Regions from separate parts of the Homo sapiens genome. Here region 1 is linked to region 2. Evidence: fine-mapped expression QTL. A gene starts in region 2. The other region holds a variant in brackets. All regions are shown on one strand. Distances are from middle to middle.

Region 1 (4,387 bases), 160 kb after region 2:
AATAATTCTCTTTTAATCCCCGGCTAGCTGACTCATAGCCAAAAGGATATGGTAATATCAGTTGACAACAGAGCCACCCACTAAAAACATACAACTCACTAAGGAATAATGACTTTGCAGAGGAAGTAAAATTACAGATGTAAGAAATTAGGTCAAAACTTTCTTTTCTAACACCACCAGAAACCTTAAACTACTCTCTAGATAAAATCAACCAAAAAGCTGAATAAGTACATATGAATAGTTTAAATTTTAAGTGTATCACTGAGTTAAAAACAAACAAAAGGATTTGTGGGACCTCCCCATTGCTGCACAGAAAACTCAGGAGATAAGCCAGTGCCAAAGTCACCTCTGAGGGTTTCTGCCCAACCCTGAACACCTGAGTTTCCTCCAGTGACTGCACAATATCCAGGAAACAGGTGATAATGCTTAGCACTTACTCAGAAAAGTGGGAAATCTAATAGGATTTTCTGCCAGCAGTATAAAGATGAAGAAGAAGCAAAACCTGTTACCTAGGAGGAGATAGCAAGGAAATTTGCCTGTCTCAAGCCTTGTCATAGAGGAAGATGAGGTGGGGATGGAGAGAAAAGGGAGAATTCATAACCACAAAATTGCCCTCATAGAGATTTACAGTCTGAATTTACAGCACCTCTATTGTCTGTCAAATCTCTGGTAGAGAATAAAATTTAAAGAATTGGATTTAAATGCCAAGATGACTTTCAGACACAAATAAAAATCTAGGATAGAAATTAGTAAACAGATTCAAACAAATTGTCCAAAATGTAGCCCAGAAAAAATAAAAAACCTATGAAATTAAAAATAGGTTAAGATAACACATCTAGTCAGGGCTCCAAAAGAAATAATAAAGGAAATTGAGATGAAGCAAAATTAGAATAGATAAAGGGTAAGAATTTCTCAGAAATGTTGAAATACACTAGTCATGAGAATGAAAAATGGCAACTATAAATTCAAAATCCAAATGCAATTCCCAAAATCAATAAATTTAACCAAACAAATATAAAATTTCTGTATGGGTTAAAAAAACTCATAATTAAAATGAAAAAACAACAATAAACTAGTAAGAAAAGAGTTAAGGAGAAACAGAAAAGCTTAGGCAAATAGGAAACACATAATAAAATAATAGAACCAATAACATATATTAGTGATCATTATACATTTAAAATAATTCTTCATTTAAAATAAATTTTGTAATATTAAATTCAATATTTTTAAAAACCTGTTAAGTTTTGTTTGTAAGAGTCCCATTATCATAAAGAAATGAAAGAAAATGTGGAAAGAGTGAAAAAGATATATCAGATAAATACTAAACTGAAGAATGCTGGAATACCTATATTAAAACCGGACAAAATAAACATAAAGGCAAAAAAATATTAAAGATAAAGATGGTCGGCCGGGCGTGGTAGCTCACGCCTGTAATCCCAGCACTTTGGGAGGACAAGGCAGGTGGATTACAAGGTCAGGAGATTGAGACCATCCTGGCTAACATGGTGAAACCCCGTCTCTACTAAAAATACAAAAAAATTAGCCAGGCGTGGTGGCAGGTGCCTGTAGTCCCAGCTACTCGGGAGGCTGAGGCAGGAGAACGGCATGAATGCGAGAGGTGGAGCTGGCAGTGAGCCGAGATCGTGCCACTGCACCCCAGCCTGGGCAGCAGGGGGAGACTCTGTCCCAAAAAGGAAAAGAAAAGATAAAAATGGTCACTAAAAAACTAAAAATTGAATTTGAAAAAGAAAAATTGCAATTTTTAATGTTTATATACATAGTAACAAACTTTAAAATGAAGGGCAGAGGGTGGAATTCCATATGACTGATTAACCACAAAGAAGGACCAAAATGGTAAGTAGATAACCATACATCAAATAGAGCTTCTAAGAGAGAACACTGGAATTCAGCAGGAAAGTGACAGGGAACAACTGAGGCATAGAAAGAGAGGAAAGCGAAACAGCCAGCCTGGCTGGGATTGGTTCAAAGCTAGGAGAAACTCTCTATTGTAGGGAAAAGACAACTAAGATATCCCCAGTTGTTCATATTCTCACTATGGACCCCTGCAATCCTAGCCACAAGAGAGTTTCTTTGCCCTTATGGACTCTGATACTAGTACAGGAGATGTCT[G/A]GAGTCTACATAGTGACATTATTCCAGAGAAGGGGTTTGTGCTGAGTCCCACCCACCCCCTGAGACCCAAGCAGCTGCAGCACAGGGCCCTTTTGAGAGCCCAGTCCCCACCAGCTATATCCGCCTCTGGAGCCCAACAGCCCCTGAATCTCCACATTCCTGAAGCTCCACTTCCATCCCCCAACATCCATTCAGAGCACTGTAGCATTGCACCACCAGATGCACCCAGCAATGTGGCTGCGTCTCAAGGACTCTAACCAAGGCAGTGTCCTATACCCTGGGGAACAGGCAGTGCAGCACACTAGGAAAGCTGCCCCCAGGACAAAAGAAGCCAAAGCTTACTCTGCTTGCAGCCTAAGAACTAACTGCCTAAGGAGATTACCGCTGACAACAACCTCACTTCCTCCAGCCTCCTGTATGTACCTTCAGAGGGCCTGGGACTGGCCTGCTCAGGCACTGGGCCTAAGAACAAGCCTGTGTCACTCAGTGCCACTGGTGCCCACATGCATGGTCTGGGGTCCCAAGGATTGATCCACTCAACCTGCTCTGGCTGGCCTGTGCATTCCACCAGGGGGCCTAATGACAGGTCCACCCCACCCACCACTGCCATTGTTGAACATGTGTGCCATCCAGGGATCTGAGGAAAGGCCAGCCCCACCCATTTCCACTGCCACAAGTACCTGTGTGCACTATCAGGGGGCCTGAGAACTGAACCACCAAGCCAACCATCGCCACTGCTAGCACCCCCTACATGCCACTCAGGGGCCTGAGGATTGGACCGCCATTACTATTGCCACCACTGATGTCAACAGGGGCCCAAGAACCCACCCGTTCACCCACTCAGTCCAGCCACCATTGCCACCCAAGCAAGTCACCCGGAGGCCAAAAGGACCTGCCTGCCTAGACCCTTAATCACCATGCCTGGAACATCTCCCAGGGACCTGAGAAAAATCATGCCTGATGTCCTTGTCCCCAGTGGAGCCTTGCCACAGCCTCCACTAACAACTAAAGTCTAAGCCACTAAGTCACAGACACCACTGACACTGATTACAGCTAAAGAAATCATACAGAGACTACACTGCTGCACTCATCCAGAATCAAAGCCAAAGTACCCTACCCAGCCACTATAGATACATCTATAGGAAAATGTCTTTTCCTGTGAAAGCCAATACATAACATTAGGAGAAGCAACAGTTACACCAGATATGCAGATATCAATGTAAGGAACAAGAAACATGATAAAGCAAGGAAACATGACATGTTTCCAAAGAAACACAATTCTCCAGTAACTGGTCCCAACAAAAAGAAAATCCATGAATGGCCTTAAAAATAATTAAAAATAATTATATTAAAGAAATTTGATGGAATACTAGAGAATACAGATAATGCAAATAAATAAGAAAAACACTTCATGATCTACAGAAGAAGTTTAACAAGGAACAGATATCATAAGAGAACCAAATAGAAATCCTGGAACTAAAGAATTCAATAAATGAAAGAAAAAATACAACTGAGAGCTCCAACAACAGACCAAGCAGAAGAAAGAAAGTTGTTGTTGTTTTTTCTTTTTTTTTGAGACAGAGTCTCACTCTGTTGCCAGGCTGGAGTGCAGTGGCATGATCTCAGCTCACTGAAACATCCACCTCCCAGGTTCAAGCAATTCTCCTGCCTCAGCGTCCAAAGTAGCTGGGACTACTGGCATATGCCACCACGCCCAGCTAATTTTTTTGTATTTTTATTAAAGACAGGGTTTTACCATGTTGGCCCGGATGGTCTTGATCTCTTGACCTCGTGATCCACCCATCTTGGCCTCCCAAAGTGCTGGGATTACAGGTGTGAGCGACCGCACCTGGCCAGAAGAAACAATTTCTAAATTTGAAGACAGGTCGTTTGAAATAACCCAGTCAGAAACAAACAAACAAAAAAGAATTTAAAATAATGAAGAAAGTCTCTGTGACATGTGGGAAACAATAAAGCAACCAAATATTCAAATGTTGGGAATTTAAGAAGGGGAAGAGAATATAAAAAACATTAAAAGTCCACTAATAAAATAATTGCTGAAAAAAATCCCAAGTTTAGCAAGAAATTTAAACATCCAGATACTGGAAGCTCAGAGATCCTGAAATAAATATAAACCAAAGGTCTTCTTTAAGGCACATTATAGCCAAATTGTCAAAAGTCAAAGACAAAGAGATAATTCTAAAAACAGTAAGAGAAAAGCATCTAGTCACTTGTAAGGGAACTCTCATCAGACTAA
Region 2 (4,387 bases):
GTGCACCCCGTTGTGCGGTCCACACCTGAAAGGGGGAGTTTCGATGTTGTGGTTTATTAACCAGGTACTTTCCATTCACTCAGTCAACAGAAAGAAAGAGAGAGACCGCGCCTCCTACTTTTTTTTTTTTTTTTTTTTTAACTACAAATAAGGAGACGGAAACTATTAAATAAGAAGGGGGGAAACTCCCGCATATTTCACCTTGACCTGGCTGGACTGGTCTGCTGCCTCTAAGAGGCGGGTGTTGTATTAAAATGAGAGGTCAAACTCCTCGAATGGGAATCGCTCCTGCCCCTAGAGGGAAAAGAGAACCATCACCGTGTTAAACTGGAAACACTGCCTTGTTTCCAATGCGGGGGACTGAGTTCCCTCCCTCGACTTAGCGTGGTAATGACAGGACCCGAGGAGGCGCGCTGCTTCCGGGCAGTTGCCCAGCATAACACCCGCACCCTACTTGCACCTAAATTTCTGAGCTGCAAGCAGGCAGAAGTGCCTTCCACTTTCTCTCCTTAGCTCCCCTCTCCCCGCTTTGCTGCTGTCTGTAACTTTTTGTTCCGTTTACTGGGAAGGTGACGCTTAAGATCAAAAGACCCACTGTAACTTGCAAAAGCCCAGAGCCACCACCAGACGCTGGGGAAAAACAGGGCTGTCCAGTCCAGGGTTAAGGTTTTGAGCAGAGAAGGAGCAGCGAGAAATCTCGGCCAGTCGCTCCGGGAACAGCCCCTGCAGACTGGTCCAACTCTCCAAAGGCTAGGGACACCGGGGCAGCCTTGTGGTGGGGTAGAGGACGAGCTCCTAACTGCAAGCAAAGTGCTGAGTAGAGGGCGTTGGGGGCAGGGGAGGTCCCTTGACTCCACTTTGTATGCAGCAGCTGCGGGGCAGTGAGTATCTCCGAACAAAGCGGCGAGCAGCGCGGGGGTGAGAGATTGGGGTTTGCTCGCAGCTGCCGCTGGCGCTGAGCGAGTCTCCCACCACCCCCGCGAGCGTTGGGGTGCAAGGATTCGGGGGAGGAGGGAGAAGGGAACGAGGCGTGCCATTCCTGTTGCGCGGCTACGCTTCAGGAGTTCTTGTGAACGATGGGAATGGCAACTATCAGAGCCAAGGGGGAAAAGAAAGAGCTGGAGTGAGCAAAACAAAGAGCGAGTGTGGGCCGCGGTGACTTCATGCCTCACCAATGTCCCGCCCACGCTGCTCCGAGCTGTTACTGCTGCTCCTGCCCGGGCTGCAGCCGCGCCTGCGGGCAGCCGAGGCGAGGCGCTCCGGTAGCGTGGGGAGGTTTCCTAGCAACTCTCTGCCCTGAGTGCACCCGGCTACCCGCAGGTCTGGAGCCCCCCGGGGGGCCAGAGCAGGACCACCCCTCTCCCGCCCATCGCCGGCCTCGCCTCTCTCGCATCCTAGCCGTGTGCACCCCAGAGCGCGCCAGCAACTCGGGCTCTGGACTGCGGGACGCCTGAGCCGCGCACTGAGGCGAAAAGGACAAGGGCACGCAGCCCCCGCCCCGCGAAGCCGGGCTCCGGCACCTCGCGGAACCTCCCCTCCTGCGCTCGCAGCCGCAGGCCCCACTCCCCGCCAGGGAGGGAGCGGCGATGCCTCGCTCTGTGCCTGCGGGTGTCGGCGGGTGCTTCTAGGGCGCTCCCAGAGCCGCCTCCCCCTGTTGCTGGCATCCCGAGCTTCCTCCCTTGCCAGCCAGGACGCTGCCGACTTGTCTTTGCCCGCTGCTCCGCAGACGGGGCTGCAAAGCTGCAACTAATGGTGTTGGCCTCCCTGCCCACCTGTGGAAGCAACTGCGCTGATTGATGCGCCACAGACTTTTTTCCCCTCGACCTCGCCGGCGTCCCCTCCCACAGATCCAGCATCACCCAGTGAATGTACATTAGGGTGGTTTCCCCCCCAGCTTCGGGCTTTGTTTGGGTTTGATTGTGTTTGGCTCTTCGCTAAGCTGATTTATGCAGCAGAAGCCCCACCGGCTGGAGAGAAACAAAAGCTCTTTTCTTTGTCCCGGAGCAGGCTGCGGAGCCCTTGCAGAGCCCTCTCTCCAGTCGCCGCCGGGGCCCTTGGCCGTCGAAGGAGGTGCTTCTCGCGGAGACCGCGGGACCCGCCGTGCCGAGCCGGGAGGGCCGCAGGGGCCCTGAGATGCCGAGCGGTGCCCGGGCCCGCTTACCTGCACCGCTTGCTCCGAGCCGCGGGGTCCGCCTGCTAGGCCTGCGGAAAACGTCCTAGCGACACTCGGCCCGCGGGCCCCGAGGTGCGCCCGGGAGGCGCGAGCCCGCGTCCGGAAGGCAGTCAGGCGGCGGGCGCGGGGCGGGCTGTTTTGCATTATGTGCGGCTCGGCCCTGGCTTTTTTTACCGCTGCATTTGTCTGCCTGCAAAACGACCGGCGAGGTCCCGCCTCGTTCCTCTGGGCAGCCTGGGTGTTTTCACTTGTTCTTGGACTGGGCCAAGGTGGTAAGTTGTTTTGTTTTGTTTTGTTTTCTTCTCTTCCCCAAAGGTCTTGGGCTGGCACGAAGAGCTGCCCGGCCAGAGCATCCCGGCCAGGTAAGTTGCGGTCATCAGAGAACTTCAAGGGGGCGGGTGCGGGGCAGCGTCCTCCAGCACAGATGGCCTAGAGGCCAGGTGTCAAGCATTTCTGCCCTGGAGCGACAGCAAGGACTAATTATCAGAGGAGACACTCTGTGTTACTCCTAGGTGTTGAGGAAGCCCTAATAGAAAGGAATTTTGGAAAAGAGGGTGTCCTGTTTACAGAAGTCATTTAGGGGCCCTGGTCCATTCTTAAGGGCATCGTCTGTACACAATGTTCTCCCTATCTTTCTAACATTTGGGTCCACTAAGGACTAACTTGCCTTTAACTCGAGGCTGTAGATAAGTTGGTTATAATGGGAGTAGTCTTCAATTTTTGAGTCCAGAAAAAGACAGCATACAAGTTTCTGCTATCATTAGTGCTCAATCTGAATGAATTACCCACACTGGAGGGATATTAATGCTTTAAGTCATCATCCTTTCGGCTTAAAAAAAAAAAATACTATCTAATTGATCCCTCACTGAGATCAATCTCTGAGACAGAGAAGCAGAAAGAACTCTGAACCAGGATTAACAGCTTTCTGTCCAGGCAAACCATTTGTGTAAGAGCTACCTTAATGTGGAGAGGTTAACTCTTTACGAAATGCATTGTCCTCATCTGTAAAACGAGGTTTATTAATAATACCTGCCTTCTCTAAATCACAAAGGAAAGTTCAAGTCAAATAGCATATGAGAAGGTGTTTTAGGACTTTTGATTTATGAAACAAAATCAAATGTAAGGTGGTATACCAGATTGGATTGTTGGAAAATTACACAACTAAGTAATAGGACGAATCATGAGTTTAGGATGAGTTCTTAATGGTTTTCAATATAGGCCCAACATTTATTTTTGCTAATGCAGTGACTCTTGTCATACTTTCTTTTTTTTTTTTTTTAATTTCACTTTTTCTCTGTTTGGTCACCAAGTCCTTAAATTATATTAGAGCCTTTCTCTGACCTCTTGGGCTCAAGGAGAGTTTAATTAATAGTTGTAATTGTTTTGTAGGTTAAAATTTACTCCTATACTTTAAAGTGTCAAGGTTTTGCCTGAAGCTAATTAAAACAGTCAAATCATAACCTTATAAGTAGGTTTTATATATATAGATATAGAGATATATGGAAACATCCAGCTATCTTTAGGAAATTGTTGCATATACAGTTTTCTAATATTTGTTTCAGGGAGATTTGCTCAGTTATCTGAAATGGAGAAATTAGAGTAAATCTCTTTATCTTGTGGTTATTTTTTGGCTTGTTTGTTGATTTCAAAATAGTGAAAAGGCAAAGGAAAAAGTAACATTCATTATCAGTTATCTCTTAAATGGAAGAAACATGCATTTGTTGCAGCAAATTTTCCGCTAAGCATAATTTCATCCTGTTTCAATAAGTAATAAAGTGCTTTTCTAGATTTAGTAAACACACATACACACTAGTAAAATGACCAAAATTTGTGTTAACACAGTATATTTTGTTCCCAACGTACAGGCAAAGGAAAAAGTCCTACTTGCCTCTAAAATTTACTATTTAAAGTACATTTTTAAAAACCATTAACTGTGCTTATAAACATTAGTCAGGCTCTTGTGAAAAAGCATTGCATTTCTACCCAGTGTCTAAAACTGATTTGAAGGAAATATTATGAATGGGCCTACTTGCACCTGCAGACCTGAAAAGGGAATGCTTATCTGAAATCAGAACAAGGCATCCTTTTCCCAGTCTCTGTCAATATACAAAGGTTTCTGATGTATACTGATTTGCATGGCAGTTAAAAACATGCAAAAAATGTAAATTATAGCCAGTATAACTCAGAAAATTAGAGATCAGCATAAACTGCTGT

Direction of the effects. Positions count from the first base shown, and alleles are read on the strand shown. Sizes are in standard deviations (SD) of each study's normalised expression.
With allele G in place of A in region 1, the expression in non-classical monocytes of the gene that starts at base 2,274 in region 2 is higher (large effect, 0.85 SD a copy in Schmiedel 2018).

What was found. PIP is the estimated chance that this variant, and not a neighbour inherited with it, causes the effect.
Region 1: its variant is the best candidate, but not a certain one, in a credible set for the expression of ITGB8-AS1 in non-classical monocytes (Schmiedel 2018, PIP 0.51).

The regions. Positions count from the first base shown.
Region 1 is chr7:20,484,513-20,488,899 of GRCh38, forward strand. No RefSeq gene overlaps it. Among named protein-coding and RNA genes, the nearest start is that of ABCB5, 130 kb to the right of the region's middle. RefSeq lists an enhancer at 2,554-3,053. The variant G/A (reference allele first, on the strand shown) is at 2,131.
Region 2 is chr7:20,329,489-20,333,875 of GRCh38, forward strand. ITGB8-AS1 (ITGB8 antisense RNA 1) reads right to left here and starts at 2,274. Exons shown (of 3, transcript NR_110120.1): 1 at 2,162-2,274; 2 at 1-25. It overlaps ITGB8 (integrin subunit beta 8), which reads left to right and starts at 1,412. Exons shown (of 14, transcript NM_002214.3): 1 at 1,412-2,445. The coding sequence starts at 2,319. RefSeq lists enhancers at 33-645, 733-802, 903-1,192 and silencers at 1,273-1,662, 2,133-2,372.